Regions from separate parts of the Homo sapiens genome. Here regions 2, 3 and 4 are each reported to be linked to region 1. Evidence: microRNA targets listed by miRTarBase, many of them from high-throughput screens and not tested one by one. Region 1 holds a microRNA gene; each other region holds the end of a gene's coding sequence.

The links. The annotated mature microRNA hsa-miR-5004-3p reads CUUGGAUUUUCCUGGGCCUCAG and lies in region 1 at 2,266-2,287, opposite strand. An mRNA with a match to its seed (bases 2 to 7 or 8) in the 3' UTR can be bound and repressed. Matches are read on the target gene's strand: a 7mer-m8 pairs with bases 2 to 8, a 7mer-A1 pairs with bases 2 to 7 and ends in A, and an 8mer does both.
Region 2: miRTarBase lists RALGPS2 as a target of hsa-miR-5004-3p. Seed matches in the 3' UTR shown: 7mer-A1 at 2,651-2,657 and 7mer-A1 at 3,888-3,894.
Region 3: miRTarBase lists EMP2 as a target of hsa-miR-5004-3p. Seed matches in the 3' UTR shown: 8mer at 4,210-4,217, 8mer at 4,085-4,092 and 7mer-A1 at 3,834-3,840.
Region 4: the mRNA of WNT2B is a reported target of hsa-miR-5004-3p. The part of its 3' UTR that is shown has no 7-base or 8-base seed match.

The regions. Positions count from the first base shown.
Region 1 is chr6:33,435,264-33,440,683 of GRCh38, reverse strand. It overlaps MIR5004 (microRNA 5004), which reads right to left and starts at 2,353; the gene lies at 2,247-2,353. SYNGAP1 (synaptic Ras GTPase activating protein 1) reads right to left here. Exons shown (of 19, transcript NM_006772.3): 6 at 5,379-5,420; 7 at 5,071-5,169; 8 at 2,393-3,016; 9 at 2,121-2,265; 10 at 1,765-1,909. SYNGAP1-AS1 (SYNGAP1 antisense RNA 1) reads left to right here. Exons shown (of 3, transcript NR_174954.1): 3 at 3,203-3,321. RefSeq lists a silencer at 2,654-2,831.
Region 2 is chr1:178,915,370-178,920,792 of GRCh38, forward strand. It overlaps RALGPS2 (Ral GEF with PH domain and SH3 binding motif 2), which reads left to right. Exons shown (of 20, transcript NM_152663.5): 20 at 961-5,423. The coding sequence ends at 990. Among named protein-coding and RNA genes, the nearest start is that of ANGPTL1, 47 kb to the left of the region's middle.
Region 3 is chr16:10,528,526-10,533,948 of GRCh38, forward strand. It overlaps EMP2 (epithelial membrane protein 2), which reads right to left. Exons shown (of 5, transcript NM_001424.6): 5 at 1-4,567. The coding sequence ends at 4,380. Among named protein-coding and RNA genes, the nearest start is that of LINC01290, 3.0 kb to the left of the region's middle. RefSeq lists an enhancer at 5,147-5,423 and a silencer at 5,147-5,423.
Region 4 is chr1:112,520,156-112,525,155 of GRCh38, forward strand. WNT2B (Wnt family member 2B) reads left to right here. Exons shown (of 5, transcript NM_024494.3): 5 at 125-5,000. The coding sequence ends at 354. ST7L (suppression of tumorigenicity 7 like) reads right to left here. Exons shown (of 15, transcript NM_017744.5): 15 at 3,359-5,000. Among named protein-coding and RNA genes, the nearest start is that of WNT2B, 14 kb to the left of the region's middle.

The DNA of each region.
Region 1 (5,420 bases):
AGAGACCGGGACTGAGCCCCAGAGACCCTCAGCTTCCAGGGAACATGCTGAGGGGGGTGGTAGGAGGTGAGGGTGTGGAAACAGGGGTGAGAGAGACAGGGAAGGAGGGACCGCAGGAGCAAGATGGGAGGCTGCTTGAAGAAGGGGGCCATGGCAGAGGGAACAGACAGATTAGGGAGAGAGAAATGGAGGGGGAGAGAAGGTGAGGGGAGAGACACGTGGGAGAGAGATGGAGGGGTGTGGGAGAGAGACAAGGAGAGGAGGAGAAGAAAAACAGACACCAGGGAGAGACAGAGATGGGAGAGAGATGGAGGGTCACTTGAGGTACAGGGAGCTCGGACCCCCCAACTCTTCTGGATTCCAGGGAAATGGGGATGGAGGTGCCCCAGGCATGATCCCCAGTCCCTGGAATGGCTCAGAGCTCACTCCCCGCACCTCCCAGTTCCACTTCAATGTCCCACTGACACCTTAAACTCGGCTGGTGTAAAGCAGAGCTCACCATCGCCCCCACACCTCCAACTGGCTCCTCCTCCTGACTTTCCTGGTTGTCAATGAGGCCACCGGTCTCCCAACCACCAGCCTCATGGCCTCTTGAGTCATCCGTGACTCCCCACAGACATGCTCCCTCCTTTCCAATAAGCTGACAATTCCTACTGATCCTTTCCCGAGAGGGTCCTTCCAGTAGCTCCTTCCTAACTTCTGTCACTGTTCTGATTCAGGATCTGACTTTCATGCCTCCGAGCCCCCAGCTGGCTCTATTCCAGTCATCCCCCAACATACATCCCTCTACTCTACTACATACACTCTACTTATGGATTAATTTTTTTTTTTTGAGATGGAGTTTCACTCTTGTTGCCCAGGCTAGAGTGCAATCGTGTGATCTCGGCTCACTACAACCTCCACCTCCCAGATTCAAGTGATTCTCCTGCCTTAGCCTCCCGAATAGCTGGGATTACAGGCATGTGCCACCACATCTGGCTAATTTTGTATTTTTAGTAGAGACAGGGTTTCTCCATGTTGGTCAGCCTGGTCTCAAACTCCTGACCTCAGGTGGTCTGCCCGCCTCAGCCTCCCAAAGTGCTGGTATTACAGGTGTGAGCCACCGTGCCCAGCCTATGGATTAATCTTCTAAATCACAATATTTCTGACACCTTTAATGGCATCCCAAGGCCTACCAATGACCTCAGACTCCTTGAGGCCTTCCAGTTTCTAAAGCTAATCTTCCTGCCCAGACATCTCTCCCGCCACTCCCCATTATGAGGCACATGCTCCACTAAACCTGATGTAATTGCTACTAACCTACTTTAATGTCCCCTGAAAACTCCTGGGCCTTTTCACCATCACACATGTGCCTTTCTCACAGCCTTCTTCTGAAATGTCTTTCTTGCCAACTATGTCCATATATCAGAACCTAAACCAGTCTTCAAAGCCTACCCAAGGGGGCACCTCTTCCCCACTTATCTCAAAGCTCTGCCTTCTCTCTGACCTTATGTCACACAGAGGTTGGGGGGACCCTTACTCAGCACTTACACACCATTATGGCTCTGTGGCTTTTTTTTTTTTTCTTCTAATTTGTCCCCATTCTGGTGGAGGCCCTCTGAGGGCAGGGACCAGGCCTCTTTCACCTGTTTGCTCTATAGCGCCTAGAACAATGCTTTGCCCATAAATGGTGCTCAGTCCTCTTTGAGGATGGACAGATAGATGAACAGATGAACACATAATTCCCCCGACCCTGGCCCCCCAGCCCAGCGTTCCCAGTCTCACCAGTGGGAGTTGACCACCTTGCACAGGGCCAACTCACAGCACATTCGCAGGTTGGCCTGGTGCTCTGCCAAACTGGATGCTGTGCACTTGATAGGGTCTACCTCGCAGTTTTCCTCAGATTCATACAGAGCACGGATGAATTCTCCTGGGGGGTGGGGGCACAAGAGGGTGTGGTCACACTTTCCAAGGGCAGGGAAGGGGGTGGCCAGGGTTGGGGAAATTTCAGAATCAGGTGTTGGAGGCTGGAGTCCTAGGACTCTGGGTTAGGAAGTATCAAGCTGTGGAAGGGTGGACTTGGGGTCTGGGGTGGACATCTGGCAGGTTTGGGAAGAAGAGGGCCTGAGTGTGGGCCATACCAATGGCATCCTTGAGGTATTTCTGACCAATCAGTCTCATATACTCTTCTATGGCTTTAGTGGCAAGCGTGTTCTCGCGGAATATGAGGTGCTCCCGTTCCATGAACCGGTCTACCTCAGACATGGCCATGTCTGAAAGGAAGTCCTGAGGCCCAGGAAAATCCAAGTGTCAGCCTCTGCACAACCCAATCTCGTGAATTTGCCCTGTCCTCACTAACCCCCAAGCAAGTGCCCATTCCCAAGTCACCTTTCCCTGAGGGCACAACACTCACCTTGGCCTTGCCTGTACTCTGCAGGATGTGAACTAGTGCACTGGCAACCTCCTCCTTGCCTTTGACATTCAGGGCGGGCTCCAAGACTGCACACAGCATCCGATAATGGTTGGTGACATACTCTGCAAACTCTTTATATAGCTCCATGGGCAAGATGCTCATTGTCTGGTAACGTGCTTTCAGCCGCACAGCCGGGCAACCTCCTTTGCCCTTGCCCCCTGAGCCACCCCCCGAGCCCCCTCCCCCTCCCGAACCCATGCCCCCAGATCCCCCACTGCCTGTTGGCAGGGTTACAGGGTACCACTGCTCTGTGAAGTGGCGCCCAGCCAGGGTGGCCACTGGCACAGTCACCAGGCCGACATAGCCTGCCTTGTCCTTCTTGCGCTTTTTGTCTGAGTCACGGTACAGATGCAGCCGCAGGGCACGGACAGCCGGCAGGTTGTTAAACTCGAAGTGCTCGCCCCAGAAGACGGTGTCCCCAGAGGCAGAGCGGGGCTTGGAGGTGGTGCGTGCATACAGCATGTCATCCAGGCAGAGCTCACAGTAGTACCGCTTCTTGGGGGGCAGCTCCCGGGCCTCTATGATCCACAGCTTTAGCACATTGTCTACCCGGCGGCTGTTGTCCTGGCATGGTGGGGTGGGCATGATGTTAAAGGGGGAAGGGACAGAGAGACACCAAAAGAGGAGAGACAGTAAGAAAGTGGGATACAGACAGCAATCATAAGGTGAGACGGTGTACTGGGTTGAATAGTATCCCACCAAAACTCATGTCTACCCTGAACCTGTGAATGTGATCTTATTTGGAAACAGGATCCCTGCAAATGTAATCAAACTAAGAAGAGGCCAGCCATGGTATCTCATTCCTGTAATCCCAGCACTTTGGGAGGCCGAGGTGGGTGGATTGCCTGAGGTCAGGAGTTCGAGCCAGCCTGGCCAACATAGTGAAACCCCGTCTCTAATAAAAATACAAAAACAAATTAGCTGGGCATAGTGGCACGTGCCTGTAATCCCAGCTACTCAGGAGGCTGAGGCAGGAGAATCACTTGAACCTGGAAGGCGGAGGTTGCAGTGAGCTGAGCTCATGCCATTGCACTCCAAGCCTGGGAAACAAGAGCGATATTCCATCTCAAAAAAAAGAGGCCATACTGAATTAGAGTGGACCCTTAACCCACCTTATAAAAACTGGTGTCTTTATATGGAGAGGGAGATTTGGAGACACAGAGATACAGGATACAGAGACACACAGAAGGAAGCCAGCTACATGAAGATGGAGGCAGAAATTAGACGGATGCAGTTATAAGCCCAGGAATGCCAAGGACTGCTGGCAACCTCCGGAAGCTAGGAAGAGGCAAGGAAGGATTCCCTGCTACAGCATCAAAGAGAGCGTGGCCCTGCTGATACCTTGCTTTTGGACTTCCAGCCTCCTGAACTGTGAGAGAATAAATTTCTGTTGTTTTACGTGACCCAGTTTGTAGCAGTTTGTTATAGCAGCCCCAGGAAGCTACTGTAGAAGCGTAGACATACACTAGACAACACAAACAGTATTGGAAAGATTTCAAAAGCTGGAATAACAAGCCAAAAATATTAATGTAGAATTTGAAGGGAACTGGAAAGTCCTGCAGAGACTATCAGAAATTGTGAAAAAAGAATTGCATATAGAATGGGTAAAGCTTGGCCAGATGTGGTGGCTCATGCCTGTAATCCTAGCACTTTGGGAGGCTGAGGCAGGCAGACAACCTGAGGTCAGGAGTTTGAGACTAGCCTGGCCAACATGGTGAAACCTCGTCTCTACTAAAAATACAAAAATTAGTCGGGTGTGGTGGTGCATGCCTGTAATCCCAGCTACTGGGGAGGCTGAGGCACAGGAATTGCTTAAACCCAGGAGGCGGAGGTTGCAGTGAGCCAAGATCACGCCACTGCACTCCAGCCTGGGTGACAGAGTGAGACTCTGTCTCAAAAAAAAAAAAAAAAGAATCAGTAAGGGCCTGGGGGGATACAATTGAGCACAAGCTAATGGTAAGGCTCAGGTGATATTGCAGTGTGTTGAAAGGGAACATGGTGTTTGTACTCTGCATAGGTCAGATCATGTCAGCATCTTGGGTTGAGTTCTTTAAGGACATCAAGACACAAGAGTTCCCCCCAGAGGAGTGTGACTAGGACTGTAAGCTTGCTAGAAACTGGGATACAGAGAATAGCTGACAGAACTGGAAGCATGAAGTTTTGGGAAGAACAGACTCATAGAATTTATGTGCCAAAGGGACCTTAGAGATCATTTAATCCAACCCATTGCCACCAGTTCCCTCTGTCTTAGAGAGGAAACCAAGGTACAGAAACTTGGCTAAGTGTATTTGATGTGTCCTGCGGGGTATTAGTGAAGCATTCCTGCCTGCAGGGAAGCTAGACTAAAGAATTTCCAGAGCCCCATCAACTCTGTAAGTCTATGACTTCTATGGCAGGGAAAGAGATCGTAAGGCAGGGTAGCAGTACAGAAAGCGAAAAGAAATGGGGGACTCAGAATAATGGGGGTCTCCCCCTGCTTGTCCAGATACACTGTACCTCAATCCTCTCCTTCCCCAAGCCTCTCCTCCTTTAACTCACTTTCCTCCCTAGGCCCCCAGCTTCCCGTGTTGGTGCAACCTTTGCCCTGCACAGGTTGTGTCCCCTTTATTCCCCAATACCTTGTTGGGCTTTACTGCCCGCTGCAGATTCTCAATCCATTTGTCTCTTTCGGCCGCAGACCGACAGGCAAAGCATTTTGTTCCTGATGAAGTTGTTACCTAGAAAGGAGTGTGGAGTTGAGGGAAAGGGCTACAGAGGGGAGGAGACTCTGCTACCTTCTCTTCCTCCCTGGCCTACCCTTTCCTCCAGTCCCAGAAGTTTCTGTTTCCTTGATGTCCCCACCTGTGCCACTTTCTCTAGACCTCTCTGCCCCCCACCTTCCATCACCCCTGTCCTTTGGCCCTCCCCAGCCCACCAGACCCAGTACCTCAAAACAGAACTCCTGGCCCAGGATGGAGCTGTGCACTGG
Region 2 (5,423 bases), not on the chromosome of region 1:
GGATTACAGGCACCCACCACAGGCCCAGCTAATTTTTGTATTTTCAGTAGAGATGGAGTTTCACAATGTTGGCCAGGCTGGTCTTAAACTCCTGACCTCAGGTGATCTGCCTGCCTCAGCCTCCCAAAGTGCTGGGATTATAGGCGTGAGCCACCGCACCCGGCCAAATATGAGTTTCTTATAATCAGACCTGAAAATTTATACTTTAAGCACTTGAGCATTTGTGTTGTATTTGATTTGTAATTCAGTTATGAGTACATTGGCCAACATAATTTTTTTATTCAGAAGCTGACACTTGTAAGGTATTTATGTTTTTGCATATAATAGGTTTCAGAGAGAGGTTGCTAAACTGTGAGAGCTGTCTTAAGGACAGAAAAGACCACTGACATATGAATACCTCTCCCAGTATTTTGGAAAACTGGTTTTGAGGATTTGTTTTAACATAGTGAAACTCTAATAAGGAATTTTGTTTTTCTGTACTTATTTTAATCATGATTTTACAAATAAATTCTTAGTAATGTTTGTTATAAAATTATTTTTGCTGATTTTAAAAATATGCACCTAGGAATTTTTGTAATATATAATGAGAAAATAAATAATGGCAAACAAGTGTATCTGGAATCTCACCCTACCAGAGTCATACTTACTCTTGCTCTCATTTATTCATTCAGTAAACGTCTACTGAGCCCCCTGTGTTAGACAAGAAAGATATTGTCTCTACCCCTTCTCCTGTATAGATGTCATTTTACTAGAAAGAGTATTAACTCATTTTGGTGATTTTCTCTCAAAAATGTTCTAGCATGTTAATTATTCATAAACTATTGAAGCTCCTTATATCAAGTTCCTTTTAAAAGATACTTAAGTAGAAAGATTGGGCTTGCCTAAATAACAAGGAAAGATAAGAAATACTCCTTTGAAAAACAACTTTTAAACTCAGTTTTTAATGCTTATATTTTTTAGGTTCCTACAAACTTGATGACTTTTGAGTAGAAGCCTGAGAAAAAAAGAGAGGTGAACTGTTGCTTCTACGTGAGCATGAGGACCTGATAAAAGAGCGCCAGCTATAAACCATCCTGTGCCAGGAAGAGCCCAGAGGCTCTGTCTCAGTCGTTGGAGTTCTCAACCAAAAAAGCACTAATTTCAGGGAATGATTTGAGATATTCCCAGAGAACAAATTGGAGTTGCAAAACAAACTGCCATGAACCATGCTTCTTATCTCAGAACTGACCTGTGGAAACCACTGCCTTAAAAGAATGAAAGGAAAACCAACATGAAACACCAAATAGTGTGTGTGAATCTTCTGGCGGTGCTGTGCTTGGAATAGATCGTAGCTAATTTGCATTTCTTTTAACTTTGTAATAATTTTAGAGGGGGGAATTGCCTTTTTTAGATATGCTTTAAAAAGGAAAAACATACTCTTGTGGATTCCATCAGGAGCTGGTTTTGAACCGAGGTGAAGAGACTTAGCAGGGATTGTACCAGCAGCCCACCTGCAAGGTTTGTTCTCCCTCTAGTAGTCTGCAACCTCACTGGCTTTCTCACAGCAAGAGTGTAGGAATGAGAAATGTTAGTCATGTGAGTTCTTGGGTTTGTTTGGGATTGGGTGGGGGTGTTTGTTTTGTTTTGGATGAGGGGAGAATTTTTTTAAACACTAAACTTCTGAAATGTAGTACTGTAAGGGGAACATTATTTCCTGCAGGAGGTACAAAGGCTGTGTGTTCATTTGCCAGACGCTTTTTTTTTAAATAGGTTCCAGAAAACATGGTTGTTTCTAACTAGGGTTAAAGTTTAGCTTTCTATATGAATTCATTGTTGGACCACAGATCTGCTTAAGTAAAGAGCTATAATCCCAACCTAAACTTTTCTGAGATTTTACAATAATTAGATCTTTTTCCAAGTTAATTGGGTTTTCCCTTCTCCCAGTCATAGGTGGTTTTTATCATCAAGACAGACTGATATTTTGTCAGGATATTTTCTTTTACAGTGTTTGATGTGCATAATGCCAGAGTTATTTTTTTATTATTCATTTTCTCTCTTTTTGTTCAATATGAGATTCAGGATCATATTTGTTTAAAAGGTAACACATAGAGATGTATGTATATATTTTGTTATAAGACATACAAAATAATTTTAAGAGGGATAAAGGTGAAAATATCAGATTCTGGAAATTTTAAGTATCTAAACTTTATACTTGTATGATTTACCATAAACATACCAAAACATTTTTCTGAAAATTTACTGTCGGTCTCTGACATGAAACCGTATTTTGTCAGTAGTTGACCAAGCAGTTTTATGAGAACTCTTCTATGCAATGATGCATTTAATTTCTAAAGTAAATGTTGAATTATTAAAAAAAAAGTTTGAAGGTAAGATGCCTTAGAATTTTAATGAAAAATGACACTCAAACAAAGGCTATATGTCGAATGTTATAAACTCTTGAGACATAATGAATTTTAGCAGTGGCCTAGAGTAAGGTAATGCTTTGTGACTGATATCTACTAATAGACTTCTGTTACTTTGGGCCTCACATAAAATTTCTCACATTCGTATTCTTAGAGAATTTTATACTTTTTTATTATAAGTATTTTGCCCTTGAGTCCATGAAACTTCAATAGAAAATATTGCTTATACAATAATTAGCTTAAAATCCATCCAAAGGAAAAGAGAAGAGCTTTTTTTGAGTGTTAAGTTTTTTAATTTAGTATTCTGTTTGGAAAAGATGTTAAGAGTTCAAATATGCTTCTTATGTAACAGAAATACCATTATTTCTGGGGTTTAGTGACACAGGCTGGAGAGGACAAAAGTTTCCTGTCCTGAATGATTTTTCAATTAATGCTCTAAGCTTAACCCATGTTGGGTAATAGAAAGACATAGCCAGCAGTATTACTACGTAGACCTTGCACATCTTACTTTTGTTTTGCATTTTTAAAAATTTCTTAATTTGTTTATTTCTCTTCAGAAATAGCGTTTTTAACAGTGTATGTGCTTTTTTAAAAAGTATTGTGAATGAGAACCCTGTGGATTTTTTTTATTTCATTTGTTTGTCATAATAAGCTAACGTAGAAATGTTGTAGGTTAACCATATCTGTGGAAATATGCAGTTGGAAGTCAGAGCCTGACATCACATAGTTTTGCCAAAGGGAGAGAGCTAAGCTGGAAGATGTTTTTGATACTTTCGGCTCTAAACATTAATGGATGTTTGCGTAGAGTAAGATAGCGTTCAAATTTGGTTAATAGTTTATAGATAGACTTGTGGCCTCTGACTGACTAAATTTCTTAACAGCACAGAAGTCGTTGTTTTTCTGTCTTTAAAATTTATTCATTCAGAAAATTAGTCATTGCTTTTTAAGATTATTTTAGCATTTGAAGCAAATTGAAAACAGAAAAGTGACTTAAAATAGTGTAGGTGAATTTTTTATCTATAATTTACCAAATAATACCTGATAATAATTCAAAGAAAATATGTTACCAAAATATATTAAATATATAGGTAGTTCATTCGTGGGAAGATGAATCTTCTTATTAAGCCTGCCCTCAATTGTAAATAAGTGACTCAAAAACTCAAAATGTTCATCAGCATTCAGGTCATTTGTTTCACCCTTAGCCAAGAAGAACTCATTAGAAATTCAGTTATAATTTCAATTTAAGCCTGTTTATGATAAGCATAATGATTGGCATGTTATATAGCCTGTTGAAAATAACTACAGAATGACCTTCCAGAGCACTGTTTTTGGCCTCGTGCCCGCTCTGTTCAGGCTCTGCTTGTTTTTCAGAATATGATTTTTACCTCCAGACAGTAAGAATTGAACAAGAACTGATCAAACACACCTTCCTATTTTGTTTTCTTCACTATGTAAATATTATTTGGGCAAACATTACAAAAAGGGATCCAAACAATTTGAGTTTCAGTATTTTTTTCTCCCTAGGCATGTGCTTCAATTTCAAATATTTTTTTCTGTGTGGAAAATGCCATGTAACTATTGCACTACCTTCTGTGTGGACTGTGTTGGTATTGGTTCTTTCTGTATATCAAAAGTCAGGGTGTTTATAACTGCAAAGTTTGTATAAGTGGCTTTATTCCTCTTCTAGAAGATTTATGAGGAGCCTAGGAAGCACTATTGGTACAGGAGGAAAAAAGAATGGAAAACATGTTTACAGACTCTAGCTTTCCTTATTAGCTTAAACTGGGGCCCTCAAAGAGCAGCCTGTTGATCTTTTGGCCAAATGACTTGAGCATAAGTCTTTTATTTCTTTTTAAGGTTAAATCGTAAACTGTATACCTTTACTACTGAAAACAAAACTATAGGGCATCATACTAATTGAAAATCAATAGTAATGGGTTCCATCCATTAGCTTTTTAAATGAATAGATCTGGTATTGATTTCCTTCCTGTTTTTTTGAGGCACATTCCTTTACAACCAGTGTTTAAACCACCACGTAATCATCTTCTGCAAACAAGGGGTGCCAGTGTTGCCTAACAGAAGATAATCTTTAATAAAGCAAATCCTCTGCTTCAAAGGTTTTTGAAATAATTGGATCCCTTTTTGAAAAGGAAGATGAGTTTAACTGTGTCCAGGTGGAGTAATAGTACTGCTGTTGCATGAATAGATGATACAAAGCAAGTGATGAGGTTGGTATGACTTCTTTAGTGACCTTTTAGGGTTTGCTTTTATTTTCCTCTCTTTTTTGTATTATTTCTTTCAAACATAGTAAATATATGATTTTACAGCCAAAGTGGTATTCTGTTTTTTCTAAGCTTTGAGATACAAATATTGCTATTTAATCACATTGATGATGAATTACTTTCCATGTGAACCTTCTCAAAATGATTTAAGTACCTTTGATTTTGCTCCCCTAAAAATGGCTTGTGTCTAAAGTGACATTTTTTTCCCTATTTGGAGGGTTCTAATGAAAGAGATCCAGGCATAAAAACTCTTTTGCTTATTGAAAGCAATTTGATTACACCTATGTTTCAGGTTATAGTGGGGAGAAAATTTGGTCAGTGCCTTATTATTTGAAGAGCAATTTTAGGGCATCAAGTATGACAATAATCATGTGCCCTCTTGCTCCTCTTATTTCAGGAGTGTGTGCTATCCCTCTCTCCACCAGCTTAATCTTTCTCACCCCAAGTCTAACAAAGTCTTTACAGAAACCTCTGTAGGTGATTGTTGCAGTCTTCCTTGGTTTTTGAGTCTTTTTAAACAAGCTCCTACCCTGCTTCTATCCTTTTAGAGTAGGAGATTAAAAATAAACCCACCCCAGTCAACCTTTAGATAAGCACTCTTAAAAACAAATTTGAAGAGCACTCTTCAGCCAAGTTCATTTTTATTTTGTTGTTGATGTTTTGAGCATACATTTAATTGTAAGGCCTTTTGGAAAAGCCCTAAAAGAATAAGATACAACCAGAAATATTTGAGTTTTGT
Region 3 (5,423 bases), not on the chromosome of region 1:
CTGCCCTAGATGTCATCACCGTTGGGAACATTAGAGTCTTGCTCTGGGCAATCTGGTTTTAAACTTTATTTTCCATGTACAGTTTCAGATTATACAAAACATAGAAAATGGACTATTTTAAAGGTACATTAAGTAGAAAGTTTCTAACTACCCTAAAGTCACAAACCAAGATTCAAAATGAACCTCTAGGCCTTGCCCTAACATTTCCCCAACACCACAAAATTGTCCAACTTGCTCTATTGTAAGTAACCTTTAAACTATTAGCGAGTTTAGTAACATCCCGCGAGGCAGATTTTAAACTACGATACAGTTTCTATCTAGGCCACTGTGTTTAGTGTGTTTACAAACAGGCTTGGAGTTCTAGGTTTCTTCATCATCAGTGAACACAGAGCGTCCTAGAGCGCCAGCCTGTTCATGAGGGGTGTCCACAAAAGCACGCAAACTATAGCAGAGTGTGTGGGAGTGAATAGGTCTCCGATGTTCCTGTATTCAGGTATATATATATACACATTCACACAGACCAACAAGTCAAGCATTCTCCAAACTCATTTGAACAGAGACCCAAAATAATTTTAATGCAAATAACAAAATGAGTTAGTCTGTCTCCATCACATAGCCCCTCAATGAAAGAATTACAGTACTTTATAAAAATGTCATAAAATGCGCAAACTACAGTTCCTTCAAATACAGTTGATGCTATCTTTGGTCCTAATATGTGCTTCTTGGATGTCTACTAATTTTGTTGTTGTTATTGTTCTTGAATAACTGGTAATAAGCACCAAGTGAGGGCTGATTCTATCTACAGGTAAGAAGCTTGGATGTTTTCTCCCTGATTTTGTCATTTCTTTCCAACTTCCCAAATGCATGTCATACAGCAGGGAAGAGGCATCTCTCATGTCTCAAAAAAGCTTAATGGCACAGGTGGATGTGGGCACTGAATGTTGTACAGCAGTGGCAACCAGCCGGGAAAATCCATAGGATCATTTCAGACCGCATTCAACACAGATACTCATGTAGCCCCGACGTTTCTTGTGAAGGGAATTGATGTATTGCTTGAGGGGGTCGATCTCTGGTTCTAAGGTGTTTTGTTTGTTTCCATCGTGACTACCAGAAAATTATAGAAGGCCAGACGCAGTGGCTCATGCCTGTAATCCCAGCACTTTGGAAGGCTGAGGTGGGCGGATCACCTGAGGTTGGGAGTTCGAAACCAGCCTGACCAACATGGAGAAACCCCATCTCTACTAAAAATACAAAAATTAGCTGGGCATGGTGGGACATGCCTGTAATCCCAGCTACTCGGGAGGCTGAGGCAGGAGAATCACTTGAACCCAGGAGGCAGAGGTTGCGGTGAGCCAAGATGGTGCCACTGCACTCCAGCCTGGGCAACAAGAGCAAAACTCAGTCTCAAAAAAAAAAAAAAAAAAGAAAAAGAAAAAAGAAAATTATAGAAAAGCCACCAAGGTAGAAAGTTTCAAGGGAACTTAAGATTCAACTTCCTCCATGAGCTTGGGTAGCATCCTGTTAACCCTAGGGGTGTAAGCCACATTCTTGCCCACAATATGACTAGTGAGAGTATCTCATGGAGGCAGGAGGTGACATTTGTCCTGTCTCTGGCCCCAGGTCACCCTGTACTGCATTGGTGGCTTCTCCATAGGGAGGGGGTCCTATCTCATAGACTCCAAACTTCATGATGGCAGGGAGGATATCTGGATTTGCTCACCCCTGTATTTTCAGAGCCTCACACAGTGCCTGGAACATGGTAAACATTTAATACTATCTGTCAAAAACAAATGAATGAAAGAGCAGATGGAAAGAGCCAATCCTGCATTGAAGAGATATCCATGGTGGCCCTAAAACTACTCAAACCAGATGTCTCTTCAGCTCCACTGGAACTGAGCTGATGGCAAACCACCACTCCACTCAGCAGAAGGTCAAGTGCAAAAGTATTTAAATAGCACGAGGTCCCACACCCCATCCCAGGACAGCCCCCAGCATCCTGCTCCAACATAAGCAGAAAAAGACAATGAGGTGCAAAGAGCTTATCTCCTGGGATGGTTCCTGGGTGGTCTGCATTGCCACACAGCATCATGCTTTGATCCTGAAGGACAAGGCCCCAAAAGCCCTATTTCTCAGCACAGTCTTAAAATCACCTGGAAATCATTCACCCAGACCCTCTGAATCAGCCTGTCCCAAGCAGCACGGGAACCCCTAAAGCTTGAAAACTCCAGCTCTATGGGACCCTCTCACCGCATTTACTGTCGGGACCATGGGCCCCTCCACAGACATGTTTTCTGGGTGTTACACAGACAGGTACTGCCCAATAACTGTCATCTGCACGAACTGAATGGAGCTATATTTAGACTGATCTAAATACCTAAATGCCTCCAGGAGCATTTAATAATAGGCACGCGTAAAGCAGCCTCCCTACCATGCCACAGGCCTCGATTTTGAATCGTTTTATTTTTGAGACGGAGTCTCAGACTGTCGCCTGGGCTGGAGTGCAGTGGTGAATCTCGGCTCACTGCGACCTCCGCCTCCCAGTTTCAAGCGATTCTCCTGCCTCAGCCTCCTAAGTAGCTGGGATTACAGGCACCTGCCACCACACCGGGCTAATTTTGTTGTATTTTCGGTAGAGACGGGGTTTCACCATGTTGGCCAGGCTGGTCTTGAACTCCTGACCTTGTGATCCACCTGCCTCAGCCTCCCAAAGTGCTGGGATTACAGGTGTGAGCCACCGCACCCAGCTGATTTTGAATTCTTAGTGGTGTTCTTTGCAGCCTCCATCACAGTGTGTAATTAGTTTCTTTTCTTTTTTTTCTTTTTTTGAGATGGAGTCTCACTCTGTCACCCAGGCTGGAGTGCAGTGGCACGGTCTCGGCTCACTGCAACCTCCACCTCCCATTTCAAGTGATTCTCCTGCCTCAGCCACCTGATAGCTGGGATTACAGGCATGCACCACCACGCCCAGCTCATTTTTGTATTTTTAGTAGAGACAGGTTTTACCATTTTGGCCAGGCTGGTCTTGAACTCCTGACCTCAGGTGATCCACCCGCCTCAGCCTCCCAAAGTGCTGGGATTACAAGCATGAGCCACTGTACCCAGCCAGTTTTTCTAATTAAGTTTTAATCTGTCTCCTCCACTAGGCCATGAGCCCTAGGAGGAGATTGTCTCTAGAGGGTATCCCCTGTGCCTGGCACATGCATGCAAGTTATGATTTATGTTGATGAATGAATGAATGAATGAATGAATGAATGAATGAATGAATGGTGGATGGGTCCTCTGAGGCTCTAGAAATAGGGGTGAGAGGCCAGCCAGGTGTAGCATGAAGGGCTGGACAAGAAGGGAGAGGCCTTCTGGGATAAGATGGGAAGGAGGCTGTACCCCACACCCTGAAGGTGTCTATGAGTTCACATGGCTCAGGAATGGAGTTTTGGGGCCCTAGATGTAGACAGCTGTGGCGATGGAGGCCAAGGTTTTGGCCTGCTGTGGGGGTTGCATTCACCTCCCCATCTCCACATGACGATACCCCAGCATTTACGAGGCAGCTCTGCTGACCTGGCCCAGGCACCGTGGTCCCCAACTTCAACGCATCTGAAGCGTTGCCCAGGGAGCGCGTTAGAAATGCAGATTCCCTGGCCCCATCCCTTGAAGACTCTGATTCTGTAGGTCTGGGGTGAGGGGGGGGGCGCTGTAGGTTTTGCCTAAAGACGAGTCTAAATCTGGCACGCAGGTTAAGGATGACCATTCCTAAGGCAAGCAGGTGACACTGTCGGCAAATTGAGGTGAGACTTTTTCTGACCCACCCCGATACCGGAGGGATGGCTGGGCTCTGGTTTGGATACAGACAGAATGCCAGGGACTACACCTGCTTCTCACTTGGAACTTGGGTGAAACCTCTCAGGAAGCTGTCATTCTTCTCCTATACCCCACCTCACCCTCTTCCACCCACCACTAGCAGAGAGATTCGGGAGGGGCTTGGGCCAGCTGAAACCCATAGGAAGCACGTCCCCAGAGACCCGGCTTTCCCAGCCTCTCCTCTCCTCCCATCACAGCCCCATGGTTAAGAAATGTCCTGCCGAGTGCTTTTGGATTTGAGCATTGCTGGATTTTTGCTTGTGTCTTGTTGAGACTTTTGAGTGGGCAGCAGTTCTGAATACCAGCCTTCATAGTCTATTCTCTGATCTCAAGAATGCAAAAACTCTTCTCTCTTTTGGATTTTTTTTTTCTTTTTTCTTTTTTTTTTTTTTTTTTTTTTTTTTTTGGCTTTTAAAGGAAACAATACGTTTGCTAGAAAAACCTCAAAAAATAATGATTATATACAAAATGGTTATCTGAATGTGGATTCTGTACTGCAGCAGAAGCAACCCAGCTCCGGAACTCTATTTGCGCTTCCTCAGTATCAGGTACATCATGCCGCTGATGAAGGTGCAGGCGAAGGCCACCCACGCCAGGATGTAGGAGTAGCCGTAGCTGCCTTCTCTGGTCACGGGATAGAATTTCGCGTTTTTGTCGTGAATGTCTTCACGCCTGTCTGTATAAATGGAGGCCGCAATCATGACACACAGACCTGTCAGGAAGAAAGGTGAATTTTCAATAAATCATGGACCACAGTGCACCCTGGGTAGCCCAGGGGCATACGGCCAGAGTTGAAGACAAACTTCAGCTTTTATTCTTTGTTTATTATTATTTTGTTGTAGAGACAAGATTTTGCCATGTCACCCAGGCTGGTCTTGAACTCCTGAGCTCAAGCAATCCTCCTGCCTCGGCCTCCCAAAGTGCTGGGATTACAGACGTGAGCCACCGCGTGCAGCCTTAAGCTCTTATTATTAATAGGTATTTATTTTAGTCTATTGGAAAAATTACAACTGATATTTTGTGGAAGGATATTGTCACCTACCCTGTAGCTATTTTGCTTCCCATTCTTGCTAACTAAACCCAGTTTTGTTTGGGCAGCCACATCACCAACCCAGAGGGTGAACATAATTGGTCTAAGCCAGAGGTCCACAGACGTACCCTGTAAAGGGCCAGACAGTAAGCAGTTTAGGTTTTCTGTGGGCCATGGTCACACAAGTCTGCCACAGTAGCATGACACCACCTATAGACAATACAAAAATGAATAATAGTGGCAGTGTTACAATAAGATTTTATTTACAAAAACATGTGGCAGGCCAGATTTGACCTATGGGCCATAGTTTGCCAACCTTCTTCTTGGCAATCTGGTTCCTGTTTACTTGTTATAGCTGATGGGTCAGTATGTATCCCAGTTCTGACCACAGAAAACCTTCAGTGAAAAATATGACTCCCTGGGCCGGACACGGTGACTCATGCCTGTAATCCCAGCACTTTGTGAGGCCAAGGTAGGTGGGTCACCTGAGGTCAGTAGTTCCAGACCAGCCTGGCCAACATGGTGAAACCCCGTCCCT
Region 4 (5,000 bases), not on the chromosome of region 1:
GTGAGCCACTGTGCCCAGCCCAAAAAAGCGATTCTTTTTATCTTCCTTCTGAGAATGTGGTTAAGGGTATCCAGGGCAGCTGAAGAGATAACTTTGTTCTCACTCCCTCTCTTCCCCAACCCAGGTTCCCTAGGCACTGCAGGCCGTGTCTGCAGCAAGACATCAAAAGGAACAGACGGTTGTGAAATCATGTGCTGTGGCCGAGGGTACGACACAACTCGAGTCACCCGTGTTACCCAGTGTGAGTGCAAATTCCACTGGTGCTGTGCTGTACGGTGCAAGGAATGCAGAAATACTGTGGACGTCCATACTTGCAAAGCCCCCAAGAAGGCAGAGTGGCTGGACCAAACCTGAACACACAGATACCTCACTCATCCCTCCAATTCAAGCCTCTCAACTCAAAAGCACAAGATCCTTGCATGCACACCTTCCTCCACCCTCCACCCTGGGCTGCTACCGCTTCTATTTAAGGATGTAGAGAGTAATCCATAGGGACCATGGTGTCCTGGCTGGTTCCTTAGCCCTGGGAAGGAGTTGTCAGGGGATATAAGAAACTGAGCAAGCTCCCTGATTTCCCGCTCTGGAGATTTGAAGGGAGAGTAGAAGAGATAGGGGGTCTTTAGAGTGAAATGAGTTGCACTAAAGTACGTAGTTGAGGCTCCTTTTTTCTTTCCTTTGCACCAGCTTCCCGATACTTCTTGGTGTGCAAGAGGAAGGGTACCTGTAGAGAGCTTCTTTTTGTTTCTACCTGGCCAAAGTTAGATGGGACAAAGATGAATGGCATGTCCCTTCTCTGAAGTCCGTTTGAGCAGAACTACCTGGTACCCCGAAAGAAAATCTTAGGCTACCACATTCTATTATTGAGAGCCTGAGATGTTAGCCATAGTGGACAAGGTTCCATTCACATGCTCATATGTTTATAAACTGTGTTTTGTAGAAGAAAAAGAATCATAACAATACAAACACACATTCATTCTCTCTTTTTCTCTCTACCATTCTCAACCTGTATTGGACAGCACTGCCTCTTTTGCTTACTTGCTGCCTGTTCAAACTGAGGTGGAATGCAGTGGTTCCCATGCTTAACAAATCATTAAAACACCCTAGAACACTCCTAGGATAGATTAATGTAGTAAGTCTGGCTAGGCCTTGTGTTGCCTTTTTTTTTTTTTTTTTTTTCTTTTCTTTTCTTCTCTTCCCATGCACTATTCTGGAGGTTTGCCAGGTTTGGGGAGACATGGAGTAAAAGAAAGATAGGCAACTCATGGATGGTGGGAGAGCAGGTAAGCAGGTCTGATCTCAAGGGCCCACATGAGGCATCAGTATATATTAGGCAGGTAGGGATCTCTGGCTTTGGTAATTCTTTATGAGAGGATCCTAGCCTTTGAAGCTGGGAGCAGGAGTCAGTGGCTACAGTGGGAAGGAGTACTGCAGGTTGGGGCCAAAGTGATACACAGCTTAGAAGGCAGCCTTCCTCCACTTACTCAACAAATCTTTATTTAGTGACTCTCCAAGTCCTAGTGATTATTATTATTGTTCACTCCACATTTGGCTTAATGGGTAATGCTATTACCCATTGCCTAACTAGGTTTGCAGTAGTGGAATCTCCAGAGATAGCAGGCTTAGTAAGCTGGAGGTAGGACATGAAGTCCCCCAAAACTTGATGTCCTATTTTTATGTGAGTTGGACAGTGGTTATCTTTTGCCTGTTGATATCTTAAAGCAGCAGAGTGGTATAGAAATTTGCGGTTATGACAGACCCGGGTTAAAAATCACAGCTGTGCCATTTGCTTTGATATTTTGAGCAAGGTAGCTAAATTTTCTGAGCTTCTATTTTCTCATCTGTAAAATGAGGATACGTACCTGTTCTTTTTTTTCTTTCTTTTTATTTCTTTTAGAGATAGGGTCTCGCTTTGTTGCCCAGGCTGGAGTGCACTGGCATGATCATGGCTCACTGCAGCCTCAAATTCCCAGGCTCAAGCAATCCTCCCACCTCAGCCTCCCCATTAGCTGGGACTACAGGGCCATGCCATCATGCCCAGCTAATTTAAACATAGTTTTCAGAGATGGAGCTCACTATGTTGCCCAGGCTGGTCTTGAATTCTTGGTCTCAAGCAATCCTCCCACTGCAGCCTTCCAAAGTGCTGGGCGTACAAGCGCAAGCCACTGTGCCCAGCTGTCAGACGCTGAGTTTTAATTATGCACCAAACTCCAGCCCGCAGATCCTCTTCACCAAAGCCCCTGGCTGGTCTAGCCCATCATGACTTCTCTAGGAACAGTCCTTCTTTAGGACTATAAAGTATTAACAAAAGTCTGTAGATTAAGGAGCCTGCATAAAGAATTCTGGATACAGGCCCCTGTCTTTCCAAAGTTCCTCTCCAATATCCCTTGGGGTCCTCATGTTTTTGAAGCAGCTTCACTCTGCACAGGCAGCAGGAGGTTGGGGGAGCCATAGCTCTGGGCCACGGGGGCAGATTTATTTGGATGATAGGACTAATATTTGTGTAACCTGCTGAGACCTGTGTGGGAGAGTTTAGGGTGGTTTTTCTTTTGGTGAGGGGATTTGCTCTGGTTTCACATCCATTAACACAAAACATGAGCTAGTCAGGGCCCTTGTGGTCTGCGGTAAGGGGATGCCTGTGGAGAAATGGGCCTGAGTGAGTCAGGCCAAGAGAATGTCTTCCTTCAGAATGGAGTCAACTGGATAACTGATGAGCCAATGGTGGGATTAAGGAGGGGGAAATGGGAGGGGAAGAGAACAGCTGACATCTTGAGGAAAGCTTTGGGGTAGTGGAGAGGTAAGGGGGTCATGGTCAGTCTGAACTCAACAATAGGGCTGAATGAATTTACCAAAGGAAGCTGCCTTATATTATATGCCAGGCTGCTGGGGAAAGCCTCAGGTCCTGGCCAGCCCCTGTTCTCACAAGAACATGCAGGTTACCACATAAATAATGGCATATGCCTTCCATAGGACGTCAACCTGACTTAAATCTACCTATACCCTACTCTCTATTCTTTGGTTTTTGGTTCTCATCCCTGTGGAAGGAAATGGGCCTCTTCTGGCATCTCATGCTACTCTGTGCTTTTCCTTGGGCTCCAAATTCTAGCTCATAAAGATGCAAGTTTTGCAATTTCCTATAAATGGTTAAGAAAAGAGCAAGCTGTCCAGAGAGTGAGAAGTTTGAAAAGAGAGGTGCATAAGAGAGAAATGATGTCCATTTGAGCCCCACCACGGAGGTTATGTGGTCCCAAAAGGAATGATGGCCAAGCAATTAATTTTTCCTCCTAGTTCTTAGCTTGCTTCTGCATTGATTGGCTTTACACAACTGGCATTTAGTCTGCATTACACAAATAGACACTAATTTATTTGGAACAAGCAGCAAAATGAGAACTTTATTTGGTGCAGTCAGGGCTCCATTTAGTTCCCTCACTCTGCTTCTAATCACCCCTTCTCCCAGCCCTCTTCTATTTGATAGAGGTCTGTCCCTCAGATCAGCAATGTCTTAGCCCCTCTCCTCTCTTCCATTCCTTCCTGTTGGTACTCATTTCTTCTAACTTTTAATAAACATTTAGGTATAATACATTACAGTAAGTGCTATTTAGATACAAACTTAAAACATACTATATATTTTAAGGATCTAAGAATCCTTTAGAGAAGGCACATGACTGAAGTACCTCAGCTGCGCAGCCTGTAGCCAGTTTTTTTAATGTAAAAGTAAGAATGCCAGCCTTAACCTAGCCCTGCAGATAAAAGCTAACTTTTATTAATACCAGCCCTGAATAATGGCACTAATCCACACTCTTCCTTAGAGTGATGCTGGAAAAATAAAATCAGGGGCTTCAGATTAAAAAAAAAAACAAAAAACAAAAAACAAAAACAAACATTGCCTGGCCCTGAGGGTCTGTTTGCAAAACTTCTTGTAGATCTAATTTCTGAACACTCACTGCTTCATTTCTATTCCTCCTGTTGCAGGGAGTAATTTCTTCTCCTTTGTCTCACTTCCCTTATCAAGAACACCAACCAGTAAGTCTTTGCCAAATTCTCAGACCCACTCAGGACACGAGTCTCTACATGGCTTAACAGAAGAGAGATAATTAGGATTTTTTTTTCCTCAGTCTTTCTGAGGTTTTTATTTAAATGCACTCAGTGGTCATAGGGCAGAAGCTCAAGCTAGCTGGGGCGAAGGGAGGACGCCAGGGAGAGTATGTTTCTCATCCCTGGGAGGCATTCAGCCTAGCTCCTGCAGCCAAATTACAGCACCAGAGAACAATGTGATGCATTCCTGGGCAGGTCGGTGGGACCCTGGGCGCCTGGGCCTTGTGGAGAGAGGTGCCAGACACAGAGTTCTCCGTAAGCAATCCTGCAGAGCCGCCCCCTGGGTGCAGAAATGAAATACGGGAGAGCTTCACATTACACAGAGACCTGTAGCTCACACCTGGTTATTGATGGCCTTGGTGGAGGCCTCTGCCCCGACCCTCCACTTGGGAACTGCCTGCTACTACGGGGGTTGGGCATCTTTGAAGCAATGTTGGATAACAAGAAAGAGATGCTTCCTTTTCACTCTTTGCCCTCCCTGTCAGCCTGAGCACAACCATGAGGTTACACACACACACACAGAGGTGTACATATACAGACACATAGAGAACTTCTCTCAGGCTGCATAGGAGTTCTGCTCATCCTCCTCTCCCCAACAATTAAAAAAAAAAGCAATTAGATTTCGATCCAGTACTTCAAAAAGGATACCAATAGGGTCTGGCTTTAATCAAGGAATATCTACAAAGTCACATTACCAACCTGCAGGCAACTCTTTGGTTTGGGGACCAGAACTCCTCTGGTGGGTGGTTGGGGGAAGGATGCAGGAAGGGCATGGTGAGGAGAGATCAGTGGTGAAGAATTACCATCAAAGCAGAGTGGCTGAGACTGTATAAGTTCGCAAGGCTGGTTCATGCCAGAGATAGTGAGATGTGCACCCTATGTGCTGAGAATGATGGAGCAGTCTCCTA